Linked DNA regions of Homo sapiens. The protein of the gene in region 2 interacts with the protein of the main gene of each other region in a pairwise test. Each region holds a gene or a part of one and is shown on either strand. Other genes may lie near its edges.

Region 1 (7,026 bases), on a different chromosome or scaffold from region 2:
CCTGTAATCCCAGCTACTTGGGAGGCTGAGGCAGGAGAATGGCTTGTACCTGGCAGGCGGAGGTTGCAGTGAGCCAAGATTGCATCACTGCACTCCAGCCTGGGTGACAGAGCGAGACTCCATCTCAAAAAAGAAAAAAGAAAGAAACAGGGTATCCCGGATTATGGTTGGCTCCTGACTGTCGGAAAGCCCCTCCCCACAGGCCTGCAGAAGGGCTGCCTGGCTGCAGGCAAGAGCCCCTCACCAAGTGTGCCCTGCAGCTGCCAAGCTGCTGCGCCTCCCTGCAGAGGCCTCAGGATTTAAGTGTGTAACTGCTCCCATTTCAGAACTTTCTCTTTTCCACTATTCTTCTATGAATAAACATTGGGGACAAATCACCCCATGCCTGGGCCAGAGCATCTGTGGGATGGGATGGGATGGGTTGTGTGCACCCTGGTGTGGAAGCTGTATGGGCACTTGGGTGTCGGTTTCTCATCTGCACAGTGCATTGTAATGACACACTAATGTTTGTTCCCCCTTCCTCTCATGAAGAGGCAGAGCCGCCCTCCAGGGTGAACAGCCGCACGGGAGTAGGTACGCACCTGACCTCGCTGGCACTGCCGGGCAAGGCAGAGAGTGTGGCGTCGCTCACCAGCCAGTGCAGCTACAGCAGCACCATCGTCCATGTGGGAGACAAGAAGCCGCAGCCGGAGTTAGGTATGACTATGGGCTCTTGGATCAGAGAGCAGTTTGATTTTTAACCATGAAAACAAGAAGTTTGCCATCTTAAATTTTTCTAAGTGCAGAAGAACTCCACCATAGCCCGATAGGGGGCGTTTCAGGAAATCCAGTTACGTAAAATGCAGGGTGGAGTGCGGCCAGCCAGGGCCCAGGCAGCAACCTGTCCAGGTCTCTGCTGCCCTGTGGTGCCCTCCAGTGGCAGTTGTCTGTTCTGGCATCAACGCAGGAGGGTTGATTGTGGTGCAAGATCTTATCCCCTTTAATTGGTGCGGAGAGCACTGGGAGCGAGGCCCCACCTCCCTCTTCCCTGGGCAGGCCTGGGGTTCTTTCCTCTGCCCAGCAGAAGGTGCGACCGTTAGCTCTCCCTGTTTGTGGACAGGAGCCAGTACAGGTGGTAAACAGATTTACAATGAGCGCATTGGTGGCTGAGTGTTCTTGTTCTTTAGAATATTATGATTAAAATGAATCCTGAATTTGTTCTTTACTAAGAAGAGGGAAATGATAAGGAAAAAGTGTATGTCCAAGATCCAGTCCCCAAGCCCTCCCTTTCAGGATGGTCAGTGGCCCTGCCTGTCCCTTGTCCTGTCTGCCCCATGGGCCCATAGGGTCCCATCTATCACCATGCCTGGTCCCAAACCCGGAAAGACTCAGCACGTTGATCCAAGTTTCTGGTGTTCTGAAAGCTAAGGACAGCCGAGGGATATCTTCAGCAGCAGAGCTGAAGCCCAAGGTTCCCCACGTTTCCGTTTGTTCAGCCCCAGGTTCCTGAGCACCTGGCTGTCAGGGCTGTCCTGCTCTGCTTCTTGCCTTTTGCCATGAACTTTCTCAGAAAGCTAAATGAAAACGCTGTGAGTCTCATCCTCATGCCACAGGCATCATGAAATTACTTTATACGTGAATGATTTGTCTTGTTCGTGAATATAGTGTGGCCTTAAAATAATAAACAGGGCACGTGTGGACCAGAGCCCTGGGTTCTTGTGTTACAGAGATGGTGGAAGATGCTGCGAGTGGGCCAGAATCCCTGGACTGCCTGGCGGGCCCTGCCCTGGCCTGTGGTCTCAGCCAAGAGAAGGAGCCCTTCAAGAAGCTGGGCCTCACCAAGGAGGTACTCGCTGCACACACACAGAAGGAGGAGCAGAGCTTCCTGCAGAAGTTCAAAGAAATAAGAAAACTCAGCATTTTCCAGTCCCACTGCCATTACTACTTGCAAGAAAGATCCAAGGGGCAGCCAAGTGAACGAAGTAAGTGATACCCGAATTAAAAGTGCGTTTTAAAAAACTTTATTCCTGTTGGTACTGAGTCCAGTGCTGGTTTCAAAATGTGAAATGTGTCCAGTTTCAGAAGCATTAACATATAAGACAGCTGTTGGAACTTCCCTGGCAACGCCATCTGTTTCTGTAGAACTTCCCACCGGGGGGGTGCTCTCGGGATGTCAGCTTGCATTCCCTGGGGAATAGTCCCAGGCTAGTGCCCGAGGTGGGAAGAACCATGGCAGGGCAGTGCTGCCATGTCCACATTTCTTGCCTGAGTAACCATGTGGGCAGGGGCCCCACCTGGACGGGACCTCCAGAGAATCAGCGAATTCAACCTCAAGATAGTGGGCATGTAGTGCTGGGCACATGAGGAAGGAGGGATGTACCATTTCTGGTGCCCTTCTCCCCAGGAGATGCACCCTCCTGACTGGGCCAGCCTCAGGGCTGGGCTTTGGACTCCAGAGTCAGGCAGAGTCCATGGTCATGGTGTGGGAAGCTGCTGTGTAGGCCAGGTGCCACTTGGGGGGTTGAAGGTCAAGGGATGAAGTAAAATAGATGAGCTTCTTCACCCCTTTCCTGGCCCAGAAGTCTGGCTCCTGATCCCCCAGTTCCTTCCCATACCCCCAGACACTTGTTAGAGATGGGGCCTCTTCCCTTCCCCCTGGGACGCTGGCACAGGGATCAGAGCCAGTGAGCCCAGGAAGCCACTCACCACAAGGACCCAGCTCCCCCGGGTCTCTGGGCAGACGCACCAAGGGAAATTTGTAAGAAATTAAGCCCACAGCTTCCTTGAGGATTATGTCTTCTCCACTCTTTCCTTTCTCTCCTTCTTCCCCAGATTCAAGAGTTACTGCCAGCCCATAGAGAACCTCTGTAGAAATTAGAAAAAGGTGTACTCCATGGCCATGAGCAGACCCACCCCATGGGACCAGCCTAGTGCAGAGTTCCCGCTCTTGCTTGCCCCCTAGACAACTCTGTAGCCTTATGCAGTGCACAGACTACAGAGCTGCCTAGGGCAGCCCTGCCAGACCCAGACATGACATCCCAGGAGCCCAGTGCTTTAGCCACTGTTCCCACCAGGGGACAGATTTCTTGTGAGAAGAACACCAGATAGAGAGGCTGAATTGCAAAACCTCCATTTACATAGGAGTTTGCCTTGGACTAGCCCATTTCCCTTCAGCACATCCCAAAGGCATGGGACTGCCTTGGCACAGCTGACAGATGTCCCAGACACCTGCTGCAAGAGCCCCAAGTCACTCCGCGTGATGTGAGAGGAAAACCAAAGTTCCCTGGATCCCCCTCCCACTCCCCAGGGAGGCCATGGGGACATACCCAGAGTCCCTCCTTTACCAATTGAGTCCCTCCATCTTCCTGAAGAATGCCTTACTCAGCAGCACTCGTTATTGCAGAGGAAGAATTTGGTTGCAAGGCAATGCTCCCCTCTGATCTTGCTCAGGCTGTTTGACAGGTGAAAGAGGAAACATCCCTCTTTAAGGAACAGTAGTGACAGTGCTTATAAATTGAAAAATAGAGGAGGTCAGTGGCTCTCCCGTTCAGATTTCACTAACCAATTTTTCCCCCAAATACTGGGGAACAGCAGAGACATGACAGCTTTTTAGTGTATTTATTTAACAAATAGAACTTTGTATTACCACTTATCATATTAGCATTTCATAAAAGAAAGGACATTTAATACCAGAAGAAAATAAGGAATGTGTCCTGCAATTAAGAGCTTGTAATTTAAGTTGATTCAATTTAGTTTTATGGAAAAACCTGATGTTTTGCCCTGATTTTTCTCACTTCACTGAGGATCAGGGAAAACCGCTCGGTGGACCAGGCAGGCCCTGGGCCAGCATTTGGAAACCCAGGACTGTTGAACGAAGAGGTGTCTTCAAATTTGGAGTTAAAATTTTAACTCCGAGTATTTGTTTTTCTGCATTAGCTGCCCCTGGACTAAGAAATACTTCCGGAATAGATTCACCTTGGAAAAAAACAGGAAAGAACAGAAAATTGAAGTCCAAGCGGGTCAAACCTCGAGACTCATCTGAGAGCACCGGATCTGGGGGGCCCGTGTCCGCCCGGCCCCCGCTGGTGGGCTTGAACGCCACAGCCTGGTCACCCTCAGACACGTCCCAGTCCAGCTGCCCAGCCGTGCCCTTTCCCGCCCCAGTGCCAGCAGCTTATTCACTGCCCGTGTTTCCAGCGCCAGGGACTGTGGCAGCACCCCCGGCACCTCCCCACGCCAGCTTCACAGTGCCTGCTGTGCCCGTGGACCTCCAGCACCAGTTTGCAGTCCAGCCCCCACCTTTCCCTGCCCCTTTGGCGCCTGTCATGGCATTCATGCTACCCAGTTATTCCTTCCCCTCGGGGACCCCAAACCTGCCCCAGGCCTTCTTCCCCAGCCAGCCTCAGTTTCCGAGCCACCCCACACTCACATCCGAGATGGCCTCTGCCTCACAGCCTGAGTTCCCCAGCCGGACCTCGATCCCCAGACAGCCATGTGCTTGTCCAGCCACCCGGGCCACCCCACCATCGGCCATGGGTAGGGCCTCCCCACCGCTCTTTCAGTCCCGCAGCAGCTCGCCCCTGCAGCTCAACCTGCTGCAGCTGGAGGAAGCCCCTGAGGGTGGCACTGGAGCCATGGGGACCACAGGGGCCACAGAGACAGCAGCTGTAGGGGCGGACTGCAAACCTGGCACTTCTCGGGACCAGCAGCCGAAGGCGCCTCTGACCGTAAGGATTTTCTGATGCTCTTTCCCCAAAGCAGGCAGCAAACAGCACACCTGGCAGGCCGGCCGCACATCCTCAGTTCAGACATGGGGGTTACACGATTGAGGTTTCCACCAAACCCTGTAGGTTTTGCCATGAATGTGTGTGCCAGAAATTCATGCTTCCCACTTAATCCTATCAGAGTAGATTATTCGAAGCCTTTTATTGTCGTGGAATCTGAATGAAGGAGGAGAGATTGTGATACAGACTCCAGAAAGCAGCATGTGACTTGACAGTATTTGTGGGCTTCGACTTTTTAAATGACGCTTCAGAGATAAAGCACAGTCAGGTTAAATACCAGAGCTAGGGCTCCTCAGGGTGTGGCGCCGGAGCCTGGCTCAGGTGGCCCCGGTGAAGGCGGAGAAGGAGGGGGACACAGCCCTAAAACCAGCGTGACCTCAGTTTCCATCCTCCGCAGGCGTAGGGACACTGTGTGAGATTCTTAACCAGTTAATGAAACGGTAGTTGTATTTGCAGTTAAACGCTTGTGTTTCTGAACGAGCTCAAGTGTGTGGGAACGCCAGCAGCAGTGCAGTCCGTAGGCCTCAGGCGATTCCCTGCCTTGGCCAGAGGACCTAGGGCTCCCGGGTGAGGAAGTGCAAGCATGTAGATCTGTGGAGCTTCTCCCAGTCCTCCTGCCACCTCCGGGCTCCTGCTTCTGGAGTCCTGGGCCTGCAGTCTGGGTTTCCAAGGAGAGGAGGGTCAGGGATGCTCCCCAGGCCAGGCCCCGCCCTCAATCCCAAGGCAGCCCCCACACCGGGTGCTGTGAGAGGCGTTTTCCCCATCCATGTCTGCTGCATGTGAGGAGGGGGCTGTGGCCAAGGAGCAGCCTGAGGCTTTCCCCCCTGGAGCCCAGGTATTGCCGTCTTCCATGTGACTCTCCGAAAATTAAATGTAACTAGACGGCATCCATAGAGCATCAGTGGAATTTGCACCGTAGGCCTGGTGGTGATGCGTGGTCTGCTCGTTAGGCCGTCCCTGGCCGTGAACCTTGCAGCCGCTCCACAGCACCCCTCCACCCTCACCCCACTCATGCCCCCCACCCCCACCCCGCTGCATATGCTGTGTCCTGACTGAGCCCCTGAACAGCAGTATCTGCTTCCTGTCCCTAAAGCGTGATGAACCCTCAGACACACAGAACAGTGACGCCCTTTCCACGTCAAGCGGCCTCCTAAACCTCCTGCTGAATGAGGACCTCTGCTCAGCCTCGGGCTCTGCTGCTTCGGAGTCTCTGGGCTCCGGCTCACTGGGCTGCGACGCCTCCCCGAGTGGGGCAGGTATGTTGGCCCTGGCGGGGTGTTAGGCACTTGGGAGGTTCCTGCAGGATGCACTGCTCCAGAGTCACAGGCCGGCCTCTGTGCTCAGAACAGGGATCACCGGCACTCCCCAAGCAGCTGTCAGAGCCCATGCAGACACCCACACAGACACACTCTCCCTGTTCAGCATGGCTGGCCCTAGCTAGTCAGAATTCCACATCCTCCCTGTTTGCTTCTGATTTCAGTGCCTACAGGCCTCACACCCTGGCTCCTTGTGGGACCAGCCCTCTGACTCCCCAGATAGTGGTTTGCCTTCCTGCTTTAGTTCCACTTGTGTGAACTGAGGGTATGGAGCACCTGCAAGCCTCTACCCGCTGGGATCTTTCACATGTGATCTGGAATCTCAGGCACCAGAAATGTACACACTCTCCACAAAATTGAAGCTCCCCTACTTCTCTGGAGTGAGCTTTCACCTCGCCTCCCTTCGCAGGCGTGCTGCACAGGTGAGGCTGGCTAGGGAGCGCTCCAGGCCAGCTGCCTCCCCTTGTGGGAAACTGCAGTGCCCTGTGGTCCACATGAGTGGAGATGGTGAGAGCTTGGGAGAGAAGGTCAAGGCTTCTAACACGCAGCTCCACCTGAGCTGCTCAGGGCTTCACAGGAAAGAATCGCCTGCATGGCACTAGCAGAGATCCTGTTTCCTAATTACCCAGAGCATTCAAGAAGTGGGAGAGAAGGGGAACATGCACCGGCATAGATACCCAATACCTAAGAAGGCACTGGGCTCTCTCAAATCATTCTGACTTTGAGGAAGCACATTATGCAAGGTTTAATTTCATATGTCAATGTTTTGACGCACCACGTTTTTTGTTTTTAAAGGCAGTAGTGACACAAGTCATACCAGCAAATATTTTGGAAGCATTGACTCCTCAGAGAATAATCACAAAGCAAAAATGAACACTGGTATGGAAGAAAGTGAGCATTTCATTAAGTGCGTCCTGCAGGATCCCATCTGGCTGCTGATGGCAGAT
Region 2 (7,026 bases):
TTATATTATTTCTGTTTGATATGTAGGTTTTTCTAATAGACTTCTGCAAAGTGTCACTTATTTTTCATTTGAATTCCATGTGGGTCCGTTCAATCTTTTTTAAAAATGGAATTACATTTCAATTTTTTTTTTTTTTGGAGACGGAGTCTTGCTCTGTCACCAGGCCGGAGTGCAGTGGCACGATCTTGGCTCACTGCAACCTCCGGCTCCCAGGTTCAAGAGATTCTCCTGCCTCAGCCTCCCGAGTAGCTGGGACTCTTATTTTTAAAATTACAGAAGTAAATTGATGCTCATAAAAAGTTAATACAGTGTATATATAATAAGTGACAACCCCTTTACATCCACTTCTAGCTCACATTCCTCCCCAGAGGAATCTAGGGAGCACAGCTACTCGTATACCCTTGACTGAAGGGTAACACTGTTAACACCACTGTATGATCTTGTAGATCTTTTTCTGTGCATTTGCAAATATGTTCTTTTCAGCCTTGAAAACGGAATCATCTTGAATGATCATCTGCTTTGCCATTTTGCCTCCAGTATGGGCTCTGTTATTACCTACAGGACAGGGACATGACTTGGAGCCTGTCAGAAAGCTTAACATCTGATATAGACCATAGGTCATACTCATCTTTTCACTAGTGAGGGGCCAATTGTTATGGAGGCATTTGCAGAGTTTGAAGGGAGGTCATACTGATGTGAGTTTTATCTGGTATAGATTTAATTCACTGTAAACTTCGAGCGGCCGAGGTGGGAGAATGGCTTGAGCCCAGGATTTCAGGACCAGCCTGGGCAACATAGTGAGACCTCTTTGCTACAAAATTTTTTTAAAAAAAATTAGCCAGATGGGGTGGTGCACACCGTAGTTTCAGCTAATTGGGAGGCTGAGGTGGAGGGATCACTTGAACCCAGGAGTTCAGCCTTGGTGACAGAGTGACACCCTGTTTTAAACAAAACAAACCCAAAAGGTGCTTGGATTCCATGAATTTTATAGGACTCTTTAGAGTCCAAGTTTTAGGGTTTTCTTTGGCTTTTGACTTGATCGATAGTGTATGGGTTAAACTTTGATTTTTTTTCCTTCTGTACTTGCTTGCAGACTCCTACGAAAGCCTCGTAGATTACACCAGCCTCTTGAGCTCCTCTGAAGTGAACCTAAGCAGACTGTCCTTAACTAAGGGACACTGATACTGACTTGGATAAAATTTAGCTTTTGAAGGGAAAAGGAGAGAAGAGGCTCTTTGGTTTGGCTTTTGCTTAACTGACAACAAACAACTAATATGCACTACCCTCTCCTCCATCCATCCCTCTGGTTCTCTAATAGTTCCAGAGGGTTTGTTTTAAACCAGGTTACAAAGAATTACCAAACCTTAATTCTTTTTAGCTGATGGAGTTTGCAAAAAGTTCAGAGTATTGATCAAGACTATTTACTATGGGAGATACCTAGAAAGATGCAGTATAATTGACCCTGCCTTCAGTGGTTTTGAAATCTAGTATGGTTAAAACAGCATAGACATTAATAATAATAATAATAATAATATTATTATTATTATTATTATTATTATTATTATTATTTGAGACAGAGTCTCTCTCTGTCACCCGGGCTGGAGTGCAGTGGCGTGATCTCAGCTCACTGCAACCTCCGCCTCCTTGGTTCAAGCGATTCTCCTGCCTTAGCCCTCCAAGAGTAGCTGGGATTACAGGTATCTGCCACCACACCCGGCTAATTTTTGTATTTTTAGTAGACAACGGTGTTTCTCCATGTTGGCCGGGCTGGTCTCAAACTGCTGACCTCAGGTGATCCGCCCACCTCGGCCTCCCAAAGTGCTGGGATTACAGGCATGAGCCACCATGCCCAACTGAAAAGCATAGACATTATAACACAAGGTGGAAAATGATAGATTTTATAAGAAAATTACATACAACATTTGTAAGGATGAGCCTATTTCTGGCTGTTTTTTTTTTTTTTGGTGGGGGGAGAGGCATGGGATTTTGAGGGAGAATACGTATCTTAACCTTTTAATTAGTTAAGAAAGGAAACTTAGATCTTAGCTCTTGATAACGTAAGGAGTTGTTATGTTCTTTTAGCAGGCATCTGTGAGACTGATAGCTATTTCAGTAGTTTTTTTTAAGCTTTCCCGCTGGAAAGAACCATTTGATGTTTTATTTGATAATTATAATACAGCCTCTTTAATCATTTCAGGATTGCTAGAAAAATTAGGAAATTAAATCCTATCAGTTAACTGTTGTCTACCATCAAATATGTCAGCCAGTGTTAATATTAAAAGAAAATTGTTTCCTCTTATCTCAATCTTGAAGCATATATATTATGTCACCTCTTCCACACATTTTTACTTCTAGTGCTGTGTCAAATAAAGCATTTATTTACTGTGACTATTTTAATAAAACAATATTGTGGGGGAAAAGTCAAAGTTCTGCACTGTAGCTAAACCTTTTGATGTTTATCTGTTTCCTTATAGTTTTTTACAGATGCATAAAGTAAAATATTTTTTAAGTTCCTTGTAGGCATTACACCAATGGCTGTTGCATTTTCTCCTTTTCTGGATCAAAAATTCTAGATGGAGTTGTATGAATTATTTATAGAACACTCAAGTGTCAGAGCAATATAATTGTTACTAATTGACTATAATTACATAATGGCATTTATATTTACAGGTTGCTTTACAACCATTTATTAAAAGCCCTATTAGGTGTAACTTCTGTGAAACAGGTGGATACCGAGATTCCTGTTTTTTTCCATTTTTTTGATTATGCAAATGTTGAATTATTTAAACTTACTCTTATAGCCTCAACTCTGAGTTATTACTTTAGTTGGATATTTCACAGAGATGTAATTCTGTTAATTTTAAGTCTTAGAAGTCTACAGAAATCACTTGTGAAAAATGAAATTTTATGAATTACTTTGTCTTTTAAAGTATGCTGTTTCGGATATAATTTGCTTTTCATTTTTCAGAAACATTTTCATTTTTTACATTAATAATGACGACGATTAAGTTTCTTTTTCAAAGAGGTCACATTCAGGTACTTAACATTTTTAATTCTCATCCCAAATAGTGGAAAATTGAATGTGAGGGCTATCTGGCTGTGACATGTTACCCCATTGATCCCCAGGGTTGATTCAGCTCATCTGGCTGGCTCGGCAGGTGTCCCCTTCCTCCCTCTCCACTCCACGTGCGTCCCTCCTGAAGCTGAAGCTGCGTGCTTGGTTGAAGAGGACAACCATCCCAAATAGAGGAGGACTGGTCTTGGGTCAAGGGTATACGAGCAGCTGCGCTCCCCTGCTAGAACCTTCGAGCAAGCTCTCAAGGTCCAAATAGTGGAAAATGAAAGTACAGGTTGATTCATGTTGGCAGGTTTTGGTATCAAAAAAAAATTAAAAAGCACACATGGGGGATATACCAATAAAGGTTAGACCATATGCCTAGCTAAGAACTTATCATTTGTATTAAAATATGGTTTAATGTAAAGAGTTGCCTTTCTCCATTCCCCCCTCCCCTCCCCTCCCCTCCTCTCCCCTCCTCTCTTGCCCCCAATTAAAAAATAGCACATCCCTAATGTGGGAAACAGTAAGAAAGCATAGATTACATTTTAGGCAGGGCACAGTGGCTCACACCTGTAATCCCAGCACTTTCGGAGGCTGAGGTGGGTGGATCACTTGAGGTCAGGAGTTTGAGACCAGCCTGGCCAACATGGTGAAACCCTGTCTCTACTAAAAGTACAAAAATTAGCCGGGCATGGTGGCGGGTGCCTGTAATCCCAGCTACTTGGGAGGCTAAGGCAGGAGAATTGCTTGAACCCAGGAGGCAGAGGTTGCAGTGAGCAGAGATCACGCCATTGCACTCCAGCCTGTGCGACAGATCAAGACTCAGTCTCAAAAAAAAAAAAAAAAAATTAATATCATTGGAGATCATACCACCGAAAGTGCTGTTGTTAATCTTCTTGATTATCTATCTGCTTCCTGCATTTTGTTGAGCCATTACATAAGTATATGTATACTTATATGATGTTATGGGCTCCTAATGTAGTCCACTGCAGTGCAAGCTGTTCAGTTAACAGTGAATCATCAACATATTTTCATGTCAGTATTTTTCTGCTATGTGATTATTTTTAGTAGGTATGTAACATTCTCATCTCTGTGTAATAATTTACTTATCAATCTTCTGTTGGACATTGAAGTTGTTTTCAATTTTTAGGATAATAATACTGTCACTTCCCTATATCATGCATTTTGATACTGGCCTACCTAGTATCAGTGATTTTTTCTATTTTTGTTTCTCTGAAAATATCTCAATTTCACCTTTTTTTTTTTTTTTTTTTTTTTTTTTTGAGACAAGGTCTCACTCTGGCACCCAGGCTGGAGTGTAGTGGTGTGAACATGGCTCACTGTAGCCTCAACCTTTTGGGCTCAGGCAATCCTTCACCTCAGCCTCCTCAGTAGCTGGAACCACAGGCACATGCCACCATGCCCAGCTAATTTTTAAATTTTTTGTATAGGCGGGGTCTTGTCATGTTGCCCCGGCTGTTCTTGAACTCCTGGGCTTAAGAGATCCCCCCACCTTGGCCTCCCAAAGTGCTGGGTATAGGTGTGAGCCACCATGCACGGCAGTTTCACCTTTTTTGAAGTGGTTTTTGGTGTTTTTTTTGTTGTTGTTGTTGTTGTTTTTTTGAGACAGTCTCGTTCTGTTGCTTAGGCTGGAGTGCAGTGGCGTGATCTGAGCTCACTGCAGCTTCTGCCTCCTGGGTTCAAATGATTCTCATGCCACAGCCTCCTGAGTAGCTGGGATTACAGGCATGTGCTACCATACCCAGCTAAATTTTTTGTATTTTTAGTAGAGATAGGATTTTGCCATGTTGGCCACGCAGGTCTCCAAACTCATGGCCTCAAGTGATCTGCCCACCTTGGCCTCCCAAAGTGCTAGGATTACAGGCATGAGCCACTGTGGCTGGCCTGAAGTGTGTTTTCACTGGCTATTAAGTTCTAAGTTGGTAGTTATTTTCTTTCAACACATTAAGAATGTTTGGTTGCTTTCTGTCTTCCTTTCTTTTTGTTGAAGTCAGCTACCAGTCTTATTGAAGGCAATGTATTAGCTATATTCTTGCTGAGGATAATGTGTCTTTTATTTTTCCTTGGCTAATTTTAAGACTCTCTGTGTTACTTTTAAAGCACTTTGATGTGTTCAGATGTGGTTTTCTTTGTTGCTTTATGTTTATAGAGTTTTTTGAATCTAGCTGGATGCCTTTTAGTTTTGGAAAGTTCTGTTACCACCTTTTCATATATTCTGCCCCTTTTTTCTTTTTGGATCCTAATTACACATATATTAAACTTAATTATCATGTTCCACATGTTGAAAAAAATTTTTTTCTCTGTTTGGATATTTTCTATCGACCTGCCTTCCAGTATGCCAAAACTATCTTCTCTTTTTGTCAAAATAATCTTTTGTGTTCTTAATTTTACATTGTGGTTTTGAGTTCTAGAGTATTCCTTTGATGTTGTTTTATAGACTTGTAATAGACTCCAGTTCTCTTGAACATACTAATTATAGTTATTTAAATGCTTGTCTTTTCCAATATCGGCATCATCTATTGGTCTGTTTATCTTGTTTGTTTTTCTGTTGGTTATTGGTCATATGGTTGTATTGTTCCGTCTCTTCACATGCCTGATAAGTTTTCGAAGGAACTTACCCATTTCATTTAACTTGTTGCATTTATTGCAAAAAGTTGCTTATAATACTCTATTATTGTTCTTTTAATATCTGTAGAAAGTGTAATGAGTCTAATATCTGTATAACCTGTAGAGATTTAGTATCATTCCGAATACTAGTAATTTGTCTCTGCTCCCCTTTTCCCTGATTAGTCTGGCTAGAAGTTTATTAATTTTATTGAGGTTCTTAAAAAGTTAACTTTTAGTTTAATTGACTGCCTGTGGTTTTCTTATTTCCGCCCTGGTCTTTATTTCCTTTCCTCAGCTTACTTTTGGGTTTAATTTGTTTTCTTTTTCTGGTTTCTTAAGATAGAAGCTGAGGTCATTGATTTGTGACCTTTTTTCTTTTCTAATGTAAGCATGCTATAAACTTCCCTTTAATTGTTTATAATTTATTTATTTGTTTTTTGAGACAAGGTCTCACTACTGCTCAGGCAGTACAGTATCGTGATCATGGCCCATTGCAGCCTTGACCTCTCAGGCTCAAGTGATCCTCCCACCTCAGCCTCCTGAGTAGCTGGGACTGCAGGCATGTGCCACCATGCCTGGCTAATTTTTTATTTTTATTTTTATTTTTTTGAGACTGGGTCTCACTCCGTTGCCTAGGCTTTAGTGCAGTGGCCCAATCACGGGGTCACCACAGTGTCGACGTCTCAGGCTCAAGAGATCCTCGCACCAGAGTCTATTAAGTGCTGGGATTACAGGCGCGTGCCATCATGCCTGGCTAATTTTTGTATTTTTTGTAGAGATAGGGTTTCACTATGTTGCCCAGGCTGGTCGTCAACTCCTGAGCTCAGGCAATCCACTTGCCTCAGCCTCCCAAAGTGCTAGGATTACAGGTGTAAGCCACCACACCTGGCCAGAGTTTATTACAATTTTTTCTGAAGACAAGGATGTCACTGTGTTGCCCATGTTGGTCTTGAACTCAGTTCAAGCAATCCTCTTTCCTTGGCCTCCTGGAGTGCTGGGATACAGATGTGAGCCTCCACTCCTGGCCGTTTCCAGTTTTTGATATGTTTCCATTTTCATTCCATTCAGAGTACTTTATAATTTCTTTCCTGATGTCTTACTGGGTCTATAGTTTATTTATAAGTGTGTTATATAGTTTTCAAATATTTGAGGATTTTCCAGAGATCATTGTTATTTTTAATTTAATTCCATTGTAATGAGATAATTTTAAATTTATTCGGATTTATTTTATGGCCTAGAATATATTCTATCATTGTAAGTGTTCTTCATGTGCAGTTGAAAAGAATGTGTGTTTTGTTGTTAGGTGGAGTGTTTTACAAATGTCAGTTAGGTCAAGTCTG
Region 3 (7,026 bases), on a different chromosome or scaffold from region 2:
CGGGGAGTATTTTAAACTTAAGTAAGTCTCTTTCCTTTGGGAATGAAGGCGATAGGCCCGGCGCCGTGGCTCACACCTCTGTAATCCCAGCACTTTGGGAGGCCAAGGTGGGCGGATCATGAGGTCAGAAGACCCAGACCATCTTGGCCAACATGGTAAAACCCCGTCTCTACTAAAAATACAAAAATTAGCTGGGCATGGTGGCGTGCGCTTGTAGTCACAGCTACTCGGGAGGCTGAGGCAGAAGAATTGCTTGAACCCGGGAGGTGGAGGCTGCAGTGAGCCAAGACTGTCCCACTGCACTCCAGCCTGGGCGGCAGAGCAAGACTCCGTCTCAAAAAACAAAAACCAAAAAAACAAAATGAAGGTTATATCAATATCAAAAAAACGAGTTTGCAAACTTTTTATTTTGCTTCTAAAAGTAGTTGTACAAAATCCTCCTACCTGTGCATGGAAGAGTGATAAGCTCCTGACAGTGTGTAAAGGGATCAATACTTTCACCAGAAACTGTTTGTGTTCTGCCTTAAGAGGTAAAGCAAAGCCATTGATAATACTAGGGAGAAAAAAGAGACACAAATTAGCAATGTTACCACAAGTTGAACTGAGACAAACTGTTCTTGTGATATTAATTAAACTTAATCAGTTTGTTTGTACAAAACAACATAATACCCACCCCAGTGGCATTCAGAATTTCCTTTTTTTTTTTTTTTTTTTTTTTTTTGAGACAGAGTCATCTTGCTCTATTGCCCAGGCTGGAGTGCAGTGGCCCAATCTCAGCTCACTGCAACCTTCGCCTCCGGGATTCAAGCTATTCCTATGCCTCAGGCCTCCCAAGTAGCTGGGATTACAGGCACCCACCACCATGCCTGGCTAATTTTTTTGTATTTTTAGTAGAGAAGGAGTTTCACCATATTGTCCAGACTGGTCTAGAACTCTTAACTGCAAATGATCTGCCCACCTTGGCCTCCCAAAGTGCTGGGATAATAGGCGTGAGCCACCACACCCAGCCAGGATTTCTTAATGACTTCAAGGAATACAAAAAGTTGGAAGGAAATTTAAGAGAAGAAAATTTGCTTCTGGTCACCCAACAAAGGCTCCTGTGCTCCTAAAATTAGTCAGATGGTTTCCAAAAGCTCTTTATCAAAACCCTTTATTTTCCCTCCCTTTTCCTTCTCCAAATAATGGCCCGCCTTGCTTGCTTCCGCCTTAAATATGACCTTTTCCATTTCCAGACATCATTCCTTCTCATTCCTGAAACCTCTGCCCAGCCTAGGGAAATCACTGAGAGAAAGCCATGTGACTCCACCTTCTTTTTCTCTTCATATTAGGAGAAAAGATTAAGTAATCATATTGTCCAGCTACATTATCCTCCCTTGTGTGTAGAAACTTACACCACAGCTCTTTCCAATTCATTCCACTACTCCAGGCTGCAGCTGTTCAAGGACTATACCTGGATACACAACTCCTTTGAAAATGGCAATCTTTCCAATTTATTATAAACTTGCTTTCAACAGATAAGGCAAAGGACCAGATAGCCTAAAAACTAATGAGAATAAGATGTTTTGGAGTAACTAGCCTGACCACAATTAGATGTACCATCTTTCTAGTAATGAATGAACTGTCAGCTCTTTCAGTCATTCCAGTGGAAATGGCAATGCATACTTGTGGAACAAGGGGAACAGGAAATTGTGTCTTGTAGAGTCAGCTGGAAAATATGCTAATAGGCACAAATGAGAGAGACCCAATGTACATACAGCAAGAGAACTAGGTGAGCATCTCTTGGTGCCACCTGAACCTAATTTTTAAAATAATATTCATCTGAGATTAGCAATTAGAAAAACCGTGCTCACCTTCCTAATATTTCCAGCAGTTCAGCTACACCATTGAAGTGTTCTGTTTCATAAACAAACCTGAGAGAAGAGGAGAAAAGGGAGGAGAAAGGAGGAGAGGAGGAGGAGAAGGAAGGGATAAAAAGAGGAGGAGGAGGAGGAGAAGGGGGAGGAGGAGGAGAAGAGGAGGAGGAGGAGGAGAGCGGGGAAGAGAGGAGGAGAGGGAGGACAAGGGGGAAGAGAGAAGGAGGAGGAGGAGGGGGGAAGAGAGGAGGAGGAGAGGAGGGGGGAAGAGAGGAGGAGGAGAGGAGGGAAGAGAGGAGGAGGAGAGGAGGGAAGAGAGGAGGAGAGGAGGGAAGAGAGGAGGAGAGGAGGGAAGAGAGGAGGAGAGAGGGGAAGAGAGGAGATGGGGGAGAGATGGGGGAAGAGAGGAGAGGGAGGAGAAGATGGGGAGAGAGGGGGAGGAGAGGAGGGAAGAGCGGAGGAGAGAGGGGAGAAGAGGGGGGAGGAGAGGGTGGAAGGGAGGAGGAGCAGAGGGAAAAGGGAGGAGGAGGGGGGAAGAGAGGAGGAGACGGGGGAGAGATGGGGGGAAGAGAGGAGGAGAGGGAGGAGGAGAGGAGGAGGAGGGGGAGGGGGAGAAAAGGAGGGAAGAGAGGAGTCGGGGAGGAGAGGAGAAGGGGGGAAGAGAGGAGGGGAGCGGGAAGATGGGGGAGGGAGAGGTGGGGGAAGAGAGGAGGACAGGGAGGAGAAGAGGAGGAGAAGGGGGAGGGGGAGAAAAGGAGGGAAGAGACGGGGGAGGAGAGGAGAAGGGGGGAAGAGAGGGGAGGGGGAAGATGGGGGAGGGAGAGGTGGGGGAAGAGAGGAGGAGAGGGAGGAAAAGAGGAGAAGGGGGAGGGGGCAGGAGAGGAGGAGAGCGGGGAGGAGAGGAGGAGAGGGAGGGAGAAAGGAGGAGGACAGGGGATAGAGGAGGAGGAGGAGAGAGGAGAGGAAAAGAGGAGAGGAGGAGGAGATGGGGGAGGAGGAGAAGGGGGAGGAGAAAAGCAGGGGAGAGGGAAGAGGAGGGGGAAAGTAGGGGGAGAGGAGGGATAGAGAAGAAGCAGTGGGGGGAGGAGGGAGAGGAAGAGGAAAAGAGGAGGAAGAGGAGGGTGGGAGGAGAAGATGGGGGAGGAGAGGAGAAGATGGGGGAGGAGAGGAGAAGATGGGGGAGGAGAGGAGGGGGAGGGGGTAGAGGAAGAGGCAGGAGAGTCAGTAGAATGAAGGAAGGCAGGCAGAAAGGGAGAAAGAGAAGTCAGTACACCGTTTTCAGATATTTGAGATTTACTTAATACTCATAAAAACACCAACTTTGCTTCTCCTTCTTCCCCCATCACACTCCACTTACCTTAGAAAAATATTGTTAATCTGTTTTCGGATAAATGCTCTAAGACCAAGAAACTTGCCATAAATTCTGTGTAAGACTGTTTTTAAGTAGTCCCGTTCCCGAGGGTCTTCGCTGTCAAATAGCTCCAGAAGCTGTTGTAAATGAAAGACATTATAGCTGTCAAAGGCGGTTTCAGAAAAGGATTTAGGAATTCTATTATTTAAAATCCCCTTCTTCCTTCCTCAAAAAATGTGTTGAATATCTATTATGTGCCAAGCACAGTGCTAGTCTTTGGGCATATCATGATAAACAAGTCAGACAAGGAGCTTATATTCCACTAAAGAAATACAAATACAAAATAACAACAATAAAAGTAATAATATGAATAATAGCTAATACACATATGGCACTTACTGTGATCATCAGGCAATTTTCCAAGCAATCTACATATTAATCCTCCCAATGAGATAGTTTTGTCCCCCTTTTACAGAAGAGGAAACTGGGGCACATAGGGTTAAGTAACGTGCCCACGGTCTCACAGCTAATAGGTGGTAAAGCTAGAATTTGAACCCCAGCAGTTGAGGCCAAAAGTCCGTAGCTCAACCACTGCACTATGCTACCTACTGATATTCCAAATATGCAGTTAAAATAAGCTGACTGCCTGTGGTGACTCATGCCTGTAATCCCAGCACCTGGGGAGGCCAAGGCAGGCGCATCACCTGAGGTCAGGAGTTTAAGACCAGCCTGGCCAACATGGTGAAACCCCGTCTCTAGTAAAAATACAAAAATTAGCCAGGTGTGGTGGCGGGCACCTGTAATCCCAGCTACTCAGAAGGCTGAGGCAGGAGAATCACCTGAACCCAGGAGGCAGAGGTTACAGTGAGCTGCGATCGCGCCATTGCACTCCAGCCTGGGCCATAGAGCAAGATTCGGTCTTTAAAAAAAAAAAAAAAAAAAAAAAAAAAAGGATAAGCCTTCAGCTCTACTAGAACATCTAGGAAAATGAAAAAACCTGAATCAAAACAAACATCAAAATGTCTCAATGATACTGGCAATGGTCCTTTTTAGATCCAGACTCTTGTTATGTAGGTGTGCTCACTCTGTAAATAGTCAACGAAGTGAACATTGATTATTTCTGTTGTATGTTATATGTGAATAACTTTTTTTTTTTTTTTTTGAGATGGAGTATTGCTCTGTTGCCCAGGCTGGAGTGCAGTGGCACGATCTCAGCTCACTGCAACCTCCGCCTCCTGTGTTCAAGCAAGCAATTCTCCTGTCTCAGCCTCCTGAGTAGCTGGGACTAAAGGCACCTACCACCGTGCCCAGCTAATTTTTTGTATTTTTAGCAGAGACAGGGTTTCACCATATTGGTCAGGCTAGTCTCAAACTCCAGAACTCAGGTGATCCACCCACCTCAGCCTCCCAAAGTGCTGGGATTAGAGGTGTGAGCCACCATGCCTGGCTGTGAATAACATGTTTAAGTTCCCAAACATTTGTAATCTAAAGTTAATAACCAAATCCTGATAACATCACATCTACATGCTCAAAATGAGGTCCACGCAACTAGTCCAAAAGAGGTAACAAGCTAAAGTTTCAGCCAAATGCCAGTGAGCACAACAGATTCAACTCAATCTCTATCAAAAGTTCTAGCTGCTTTGTTTTTGTATCATTGACAAGTTGATCCTAAAATTCATATGGAAATGCAAGAGAACCAGAAGAGCCAAAATACTCTTGAGGGAAACAAAACTTGAAAGATTCACACTTCTCTATTTCAAAACTTAGTCCAAAATACCAAGACAGTGTGGTACTGGCATAAAGACAGACATACAGATTAATGGAATAGAATTAAGAGCCCAAAAGTAAGCCCTCACATTTATGGTCAACTGATTTTCAACAAGAATGGTCAATAAACCATGAAAAGTGCTCTATTTTATTGATCATTACAGAAAAGCAAACCCTGGCTCACGCCTGTAATCCTAGCACTTTTGGAGGCCGAGGGGGTAGATCACGAGGTCAGGGGTTTGAGATCAGCCTGGCCAACATGGTGAAATCCTGTCTCCACTAAAAATACAAAAATTAGCCAGGCGTGCTGGCACATGCCTGTAATCCCAGGTATTCGGGAGGCTGAGGCAGAAGAATTGCTTGAACCTGGGAGGTGGAGTTTGCAGTGAGCCGAGATCGCGCTGCTGCACTACAGCCTAGGCAACAGAGGAAGACTCCATCTCAGAAAAAAAGAAAAGAAAAGAAAACCCAACCAACAAAGAGATACTCATTGGATGGCTATAATGAAAAAGAGGGATAATAAAAAGTGTTGGCGAGGATATGGAGAAACTGGAACCCTCATACATTGTTGGTAAGAATGTAAAATGGTGCAGCTATTTCAGAAAACAGTTTGGCAGTTCCTTAAATCTCCCACAGAGTTACTATATGACTAAGCGATTCCACTTTCATGTATATATCCAGCAGAACCGAAAACACATGTCCACACAAAAACTTGTACACAGATGTTCATGGGAGCAATATTCATAATAGCTAAAAACTGAAACAACCCAAATATCCGTCAACTGATAAACAAAATGGGATGCCATGGAATATTATTCAGCCATAAAAAGGAACAAAGTAACTGATACATGTTACAACATCAATGAATCTTTCAAACATCATGCTAAGTAAGTAAAAGAAACCAGACACAGAAGGCCATACAATGTATGACTCCATTTATGTGAAATAAGCAGAATAGGCAAATCCATAGTGACAGAAAGTAGAATGGGGAGTGGCTACTAATAGGTCTGGATTTCTTTCTTTTTTTTTTTTTTTTTTTTTTTTTTTTTTTTGAGACAGAGTCTTGCTCTGTCACTAGGCTGGAGTGCAGTGGCGCTATCTCGGCTTACTGAAACCTCCGCCTTCCGGGTTCAAGCGATTCTCCTGCTTCAGCCTCCTGTGGGTCTGGATTTCTTTGAGGGATGATAAAAACATCCTGCAATGATACTGTGGTGATGGTTGCATGACTCTGTAAACATACTAAAAACCACTAAATTGGAAACTTTAAAATGGTGAATTTTATGGTGTATGAATTACAACACAATAAATCTGCTACCTTTACAAAAAGTCAGTGTGCAAGTTCCTCTGGCTGAAGAACAAACTTGGAAATTGGTTTGAATGTTACTGAGTTGTTTTTTTTAACATTCATCATCATTGCAATAAAGCAAAATTCAGTTCTAGTGTCTTTACAGCAAAACATTTCAAGAGCACATAACACACAAATTAGACTACCATCGTCATCAAAAAGGCTATCCAGATATATGTAAGTTTGACCTCAGGTGATTTAGACATGAGGTTGACACTGACAGCAGAATAAAAACCTCATGGTCAATAATCGAATGTGCTTTTGTTCGGTGTTTTAATTTGAATAAAAGACAAGAGTTATGGACCAAAAAAAGGCCCCTCAAACATGGCAGGAAACGCAAACTAAAGGATGGTCTTCAAAAATAGGTAGAGACAGGACACAATTTTTAGCTACATAATGCCATCCACCATCCATCTATCATTCATTCATCTGTTCATTTTAAAAATGAGTATTTCAAGTAAATATTTATGGTGTGCTTATTAAAAGCCAGCCAGTGGGCGAGCTGTCAGGGATACAATGATAAGCAAGACAGATACAGTCTTTGCTTTCTCAGAGCCTATTCTAATGGGGAATACAAACAAGTAAATAAACAGCATGTTAAGTAGTTCAGGATGTTGTATAAATACACAGCAGACACATCTACTGTATTTGGAAGAAGTGGAGTGATCAGCAAAGGCTTCTAAAGGAAGAGACATCCAGGCTGACCGATG
Region 4 (7,026 bases), on a different chromosome or scaffold from region 2:
GCGGAGGGAGGAGGCGGAGCAGGATAGGCCAGGCTGAGAAGTGCCCTTGCATGGGTAGGCGTAGGAGCTGGCTGAGATCAAGCCATGCCTTCCTTCTCCGGCCCCAGAGCACCTGGTGCAGAGCGTCTGCAAGTCCTACAGGGAGACATGCCAGCTGCGGCTGGAGGACCTGCTGCGGCAGCGCTCCAACATCTTCTCCCGGGAGGAAGTGACTGGCTACCAGAGGAAGGTGAGGCCAGGAGACCTGCAGGAAGGGAACGTATCCCACCCCCACCGGGAGAGTTCAGAGATGGCTACCTGCGCACGACTGGGTCCTGGGGCAGGGCGGGACATCACAGACACAGGCTGGCCAACAAGCATGTGCACACCTTTTATGTACAGTTGCGAATGTGTGTATCTGTCTACACCCCAGCAGATGGATGAGCGCTTTTCCTTAGTTCTTGCCTATTAAAATTGTACCTGGCCTTCATCCTACCTCCTCTACCATGCAGACCTTGGTGCACCCTCCTTCCTCCTCTTCCATCAACAATAACAATAATCAGAACCCTGATTACCATTTGTTAAACACCCCTTCTCTGCCAGGCATTGTGCTAAACGCTTTATGTAAATTATCCTCAGCCCCTACCACAACCAACCTATGAGGGTGGCATTTATTCCTACTTTTAACAGACAGAAACTGAGCCTAGAGGGGTTAATAGGTTTCCTCAAAGTCACAAAGTGGTGGAACCAAAGTCAAATTCAGATTCATCAGGCTCCAAAGTTTATGCTGCCTTTTCGATCACACTCTCATACCACCTGCTCTAAACACACTCGTTTGGCACTTCACATTTGCTTCTCCAGGTTATTGAGACCTTGGGCATAACCTTTGTGGGGGAAGGGGCAGCTGTATGTCCTGTTCACCTCAACGAGATATACCTTGTTGGAGGGCAAAGCTGTATCTCATACTTTTTGGATTCCCTCACAACAGCTAACTCGGTGTCAGCAGCCGGTAGGTGCTCAGTGTGTGGGACTCACTGGCAGGAATCTGTGCATTTGTGCTAAGACCAGGCTTTTGAAAATGCTAGTTGAGAACATAGGAGTTCAGAGCCTACCCCTTGCAGTTTATTAGGTGGGGCTCCAGGGCTCAGGAGGATCACAGGGCCACACAGAGCGCTACAGCGGGACCCTCCTCCCTCCCTGCAGTCCATGTGGGAGATGTGGGAACGGTGTGCCCACCACCTCACCGAGGCCATTCAGTACGTGGTGGAGTTCGCCAAGAGGCTCTCAGGCTTTATGGAGCTCTGCCAGAATGACCAGATTGTGCTTCTCAAAGCAGGTGCCCAGGGATGGGTGGGCAGGCCTGGGGACAAGGGGACAGAGCCAAGTGGAGGGAGGTGGCTTAAGGAAATCAGGGGGACAGAGTCAGATCCTGGCTTTGCTTGACACTGTCCCTGCATCTTCTCTCCCCACTGCCCAGGAGCAATGGAAGTGGTGCTGGTTAGGATGTGCCGGGCCTACAATGCTGACAACCGCACGGTCTTTTTTGAAGGCAAATACGGTGGCATGGAGCTGTTCCGAGCCTTGGGTGAGGGGCAGGGAGAAATGAGAGGGAAGATTCTGATGCCAACCCCAGGCAAAGCTTTGTGACCCAGGGCACCCTCTTTTCAGGGCGAATTGCCCCCTCTGCTCTAAACACAATAAGGGCGGTGTCCTCGGGCACCATCGCTCCAGCCACTCTCTCACTTTTCTCATTTCCACTCCATCAGGCTGCAGCGAGCTCATCAGCTCCATCTTTGACTTCTCCCACTCCCTAAGTGCCTTGCACTTTTCCGAGGATGAGATTGCCCTCTACACAGCCCTTGTTCTCATCAATGCCCGTGAGTGTTGCTGGGCTTGGGTGAAGGACATTCAGGTGGCAGGGGCATGGCAGATATTGAAGAAGAGTCTAGACCTTCAGATGTAGTTAAATCTGGGAAATTGCTTTAAATAGCAGAATGAGCCCTACTCAGTATTGCTATAAAATAAAATGAGTTAAAATAAAGATTCAGAGGACTCTCAGAGAGGGACAAGAGCAGCATAAGGTGGGGTTGTGGGAAGTGGGGAGAAATGAGGTTGAGAGGAAATGAGCCACTTTCCTGACAGAAATGTGTCTGATTGTTAGTCTATGGCAGTGATTTCATTGTAGCACACATCAGAATCACCTGGGGAGCTTTAAAAACTATTGCTGCCTGGGTCCCACTTCCAGAGATTCCAGTGTACATGTGCTCCATGACTTATGATGGGGTTATGTCCCAATAAACCTATCGTAAGTTGAAAATATGGTAAGTTGAAATTGCATTTAACACGCCTAACTTACTGAACACCATAGCTTAGCCTAGCCTACCTTAAATGTGCTCAGAATGCTTACATTAGCCTACAGTCTGGCAAAAGCATATAACACAAAGCCTATTTTATAATAAAGTGTTGAATAGCTCATGTAATTTATTGAATATGGTTCTAAAAGTGAACAGCAGGATGGTTGCATGGGTATTCAAAGTATGGTTTCTACTGAATGCAAGTGGCTTTCTCACCAACATAAAATCAAAAAATAGTAAGTCAACTCATCATAAGACTGGGACCATCTGTAATTGATAAGGGGTGCACTGAATTTTAACAGCCACCCCCAGGCCACCAAGATTAAGAATCACTGCTCTGTGTGAACTAATTTTAAGGCTGTATGCCTATAATAGGAAGACTCTGGATATCCTATCCACTCCCCTGGCATGGAGTAGCTGGGCTGAGCCAGATGAATACTAAATATTCAGAGAACCTAGGGAAGTGGGTCAAGCTGCTAACCTGAGTTTGCAGATCGAGACTATCAGTCTTCTGGCTCTGCCAGTGAGTGGACACCTAAATATGCCCTTCAAACTAGAAGATAAAAACTTTAAAGATGACTTCTGGATATTTTATAGAATCAGGGCAAAAGTTAGTCACAGATTGCTGCAAGCCCCCTGGTGCAGGCCTGGGCACCTTCAGGAAGGCCACCTCCTATCAGGAGCCCTTTTCGTACATGGGGGAGCTCTTTTCCAACTCTTGTTACCCCTATGACAGAATCCTAGTGCCTAGCATTGAATGAGCTATGTGGAATATCAGGTTACCAGGGAGAAGGTAGCTTGGAGTCAGGAGATCAGAAATTCTCATACCTTTCATCTCTTCCCAGTTTTCCTTGTAGACAGCTAGCCAAGCCCAACGTCCAGAGCTTACCATTATCAAACCAAGGCACACACATGCACGCGCTCAGCTTAGAAGACCTCTATCCAGCACAGATGTCCACAAAGATACACCCTTTTGTTGGGAGTTAATGTCCATGTTCTTTCTTGTTCTCATTACGGTCCCACCCCCTCCTCCAGATCGGCCAGGGCTCCAAGAGAAAAGGAAAGTAGAACAGCTGCAGTACAATCTGGAGCTGGCCTTTCATCATCATCTCTGCAAGACTCATCGCCAAAGCATCCTGGCAAAGGTAGGAGCAGTCCCTGGGGTAGAAGAGGCCAGGCCCATCGCTAGCTCTGTAACATCAGAGTTTGCGAGGGCCGGGGTCTGTGGGTACAGAGGAGGGAGTGCGGGAGTACCACTCTCTGTTAGAGAGCTTGCATCAGCAGTGGGAACTAAGGGAATGAACAGCTACTTCCACGTGCATAAAGACTGGAAAGTTAGAGGGCCTGGGATTGGGAGGGACCTCCAGGGAACAATTCAGTTTAATATAGCCAGCACTTACCCAGCACCTGCTTGTACAAGGCACTGTGGAAAGACACAGAGATTTGGTCGCTGCCCCCACCAAGAGATTTTAATCTGGTATGAAGAAGAGATCTGTGTATCACTAACTCTAACATAGAGTAGAATGTGGTATGTGATATAATAATAATGCAATTAACAGAGTGCTTTTGCTGACATGCTTTCTCATCCTCATGGCAACCCAGTCAATAGGACAGGTGTTCAAATCTCCCTGTGTAGCAGCCGGGCACAGTGGCTCACGCCTGTAATCCCAACACTTTGGGAGGCCAAGGCGGGTGGATCACCTGAGGTCAGGAGTTCGAGACCAGCCTGACTAACATGGTGAAACCCCATCTCTACTAAAAATAAAAAAAATTAGCCAGGCATGGTGGCAGGCGCCTGTAGACCCAGCTACTTGGGAGGCTGAGGCAGGATAATCGCTTGAAACCGGGAGGCAGATGTTGCAGTGAGCCAAGATTGTGCCATTGCACTCCAGCCTGGGCAACAAGAGCAAACTCTGTCTCAAAAAAAAAAAAAAAATCTCCTTGTAGCTATCAGGAGACTTCAGTGACTTAAATGCAAGATTGAATCCCAGTGCTCTTTGCGCTCTTTCTATCCCTGTGTCCCCTATGTATAACTATAATAAGTGACACCAGGAAAATGTTATGAGAGTATAAAACAGGGATTAAAAATAATTTGGGGGTAAAAGGAGTGGGTCATAAATACTTCCCAGGGAAGATGACATTTATACTAGGCCATGAATGATGTAAGATTTTAACAGGCATTCATGGGGGTGGGGCAGGCATTCCAGGCTTAGGGAACAATAGGAGCAAAACAAAAAAAATGAAAAAAAATCCTTTTCCTGAGGTTTAACCAAAAAAATGGATGAGATGAGTATGAGAGGCTGGGGATAATTGTTTTATGGGATTTGGGTGTGGGACTAGGGTACAATGAAGACCAAGAACAACAGGAGAAAAATAAGGAGGCAAAATAGTGTGTATGTGGAGAATCACTCATGGTACATCCTCACTAAAGTGTAAAATCAGGAGCTGGGATAGACTGGTGGGGCAGAAGAGCACCAGATGATCAGCCTGAAAATTAGGTCAGGGGCAAATCAGAGAGGACTTTCAATGCCATATAAGCGTTAAAGCTTTATTTCTAGGCCACAGGGAGCTCCAAAGGCTAGAAAAATGACACAATCAGAGCTGTCATTTAGGCAATTTACTTTGGAACCAGTATAAAGGAACCATTTATGTAATTATTCAAGCAGGCCTTTGCTATGTGCCAGGCACAGGGCTGGGTGTTAAGGATACAGCAATGACTTACACGGTCTGTGCTCTCAAGAACTTGAACTTTAATCTGCTACAGGATGGATTTGAAGGAGGAGAGACAGGAATCTGGGAGAGCAATTGGAAAGCACATCCGGTTGGATCTGCTTTCAAAATACATCACCTTCCCTACTATTACCACCACCCTGGCCCCTACCAGCTCTCAGCTTTCACTTGGACTTTAAGAGAGGCCTCCTAACTGAGCCCCTGTTCCACCCTCATCTGCCCTGTAGCAACCACACCTACTCCGCACCCACGGTAGCCCTTTTAAAAATGCAATCTCATCATGCCCTACTCCTGTGGTTTTTTTCTTGTTTTTGTTGTTGTTGTTTGTTTGTTCTGTTTGTTTGTTTTGAGGCAGACTTGCTCTGTCGCCCAGGCTGGAGTGCAGTGGTGTGATCTCGGCTCACTGCAACCTCCACCTCCCAGGTTCAAGCGATTGTCCTGCCTCAGCCTCCTGAGTAGCTTGGATTACAGGGATTACACGCCCGGCTAATTTTTGTATTTTTAGTAGAGACAGGGTTTCACCATGTTGGCCAGGCTGGTCTCGAACTCCTGACCTCAGGTGATCTGCCCACCTTGGCCTCCCAAAGTGTTGGGATTACAGGCGTGAACCACCACACCTGGCCTTGACTCCTGTTCTCAGCCCTCCTGTAGCTGCCTGTGATGCCGAGAATCAAATCTAGAGTCTGCGTCATGGTCAAGTGGCTCATAACATGATCCCTGCCTTCTTTTCTCACTTGATCTTCCACTGCCCCTTCAAACACCCATTGCAGCCACACTTGCTTCCTTGCTATTCCTCGAACACATCAAACCCAGTCGCAGGGCTTTTGTACCTGCTATTGTAGTCACCTGGAGGGTTCTTCCCCCAGTTTTCCAAATGGCTTACCCCATCTCTTCATTCGGGAGAGGTTTTTCCTGACCAGTAACCCCATACAAAAAGCTTTAGTTTTCTTTAAAGAACTTATTATCTGATACACTACATATTTATTTTCTGGGCCCCTCACCAGAATGTAAATTTAATCAAGGTACAGATTATACTTTATTGACTGATATATCTGATATATCACTAGAGGCCATCACAGTGCCTAGCTCAGATCCAGATGTGTTCTCAACAAATATTTGTTGAATGAATGAAGGAAGCTATTGCCATAGCCCAAAAAAGCTCAGAATAAAGCAGTGGTGAGGAAGAGAGAGAATCTAGGAGATATGAAGGGATCACACCCTGCTGCCTGCTTTTCTCTGACTGCCTCTTTCCAAGGAAACTAAGCTGGGGGAGGGAGGCAATGGCAGGCAAGAGACATTTTTAAGCCTCTTGGTTGTAGAGGAGACTGCAAGAGATAAATTGTTCTTTCAGCCTTGCTCCAGTGAGGTCTCCCTGCCTCCGTCTGCTCACTGGTTTCTGTGCCTTTTTCATCTCCCCTTTGGCTGAGTGCTGGCAGCATTGGTTTGCTACTTGCAGTGTTAGGTGCCTGCTTAGAAAGTCTGTTTAGTTCAAAGAGTTATTAAGCATGTGCCATGTGCTAAGCATTATGATAGGTACAGAGGAGACAGGGAAAGAGAGACCTCAGCCAAGGAGCTGAAATCTAGGGTGGGAAGGCAGACAAATTGGACCATTTTCCTGCAATGTAGTAAGTGCTACACAGAGGAAAGCCCAAAAGAAGGGCCCTTAATCCAGATGGGAGGCAGTTAGGGAAATAGTCTTAGGAGAGGTGACACTAGAGGGTAAGGATTAGTAATGGGAAGAGGGGAACAACATGCACAAAGGCAGAGGCATGTGACAGCATACAACAAGAGTCACAGACAATCACTCTTATAAAAGCAGGAAGTGCACATTAGAGTCTTTGACAAGGTTCATTCTAGAAGTATTGGGAACATAAATTGAGGGCTTCACCCAGAAAACATTCACCTGTGCCCCACCCACTCTCACTTCCCTCCAGTGTCCTGAACACACACGTACTTCTACCAG

What was found.
Region 1: the proteins of CLOCK (region 2) and PER2 interact in a two-hybrid assay, tested with the Homo sapiens proteins (one study listed by BioGRID).
Region 3: the proteins of CLOCK (region 2) and PPP2R5E interact in a two-hybrid assay, tested with the Homo sapiens proteins (one study listed by BioGRID).
Region 4: the proteins of CLOCK (region 2) and RORC interact in a two-hybrid assay, tested with the Homo sapiens proteins (one study listed by BioGRID).

The regions. Positions count from the first base shown.
Region 1 is NC_000002.12:238,250,592-238,257,617, reverse strand, and holds part of PER2 (period circadian protein homolog 2), read left to right. Parts: intron 1-531; coding exon 532-696; intron 697-1,706; coding exon 1,707-1,961; intron 1,962-3,915; coding exon 3,916-4,706; intron 4,707-5,856; coding exon 5,857-6,019; intron 6,020-6,874; coding exon 6,875-7,026. UniProt on the Homo sapiens protein: Transcriptional repressor which forms a core component of the circadian clock.
Region 2 is NC_000004.12:55,536,888-55,543,913, reverse strand, and holds part of CLOCK (circadian locomoter output cycles protein kaput), read left to right. Parts: intron 1-7,026. UniProt on the Homo sapiens protein: Transcriptional activator which forms a core component of the circadian clock.
Region 3 is NC_000014.9:63,393,376-63,400,401, forward strand, and holds part of PPP2R5E (serine/threonine-protein phosphatase 2A 56 kDa regulatory subunit epsilon isoform), read right to left. Parts: intron 3,342-7,026; coding exon 3,211-3,341; intron 1,911-3,210; coding exon 1,851-1,910; intron 554-1,850; coding exon 445-553; intron 1-444. UniProt on the Homo sapiens protein: The B regulatory subunit might modulate substrate selectivity and catalytic activity, and might also direct the localization of the catalytic enzyme to a particular subcellular compartment.
Region 4 is NC_000001.11:151,807,777-151,814,802, reverse strand, and holds part of RORC (nuclear receptor ROR-gamma), read left to right. Parts: intron 1-107; coding exon 108-229; intron 230-1,100; coding exon of another isoform or gene 1,101-1,182; coding exon 1,183-1,315; intron 1,316-1,456; coding exon 1,457-1,564; intron 1,565-1,745; coding exon 1,746-1,856; intron 1,857-3,368; coding exon 3,369-3,478; intron 3,479-7,026. UniProt on the Homo sapiens protein: Nuclear receptor that binds DNA as a monomer to ROR response elements (RORE) containing a single core motif half-site 5'-AGGTCA-3' preceded by a short A-T-rich sequence.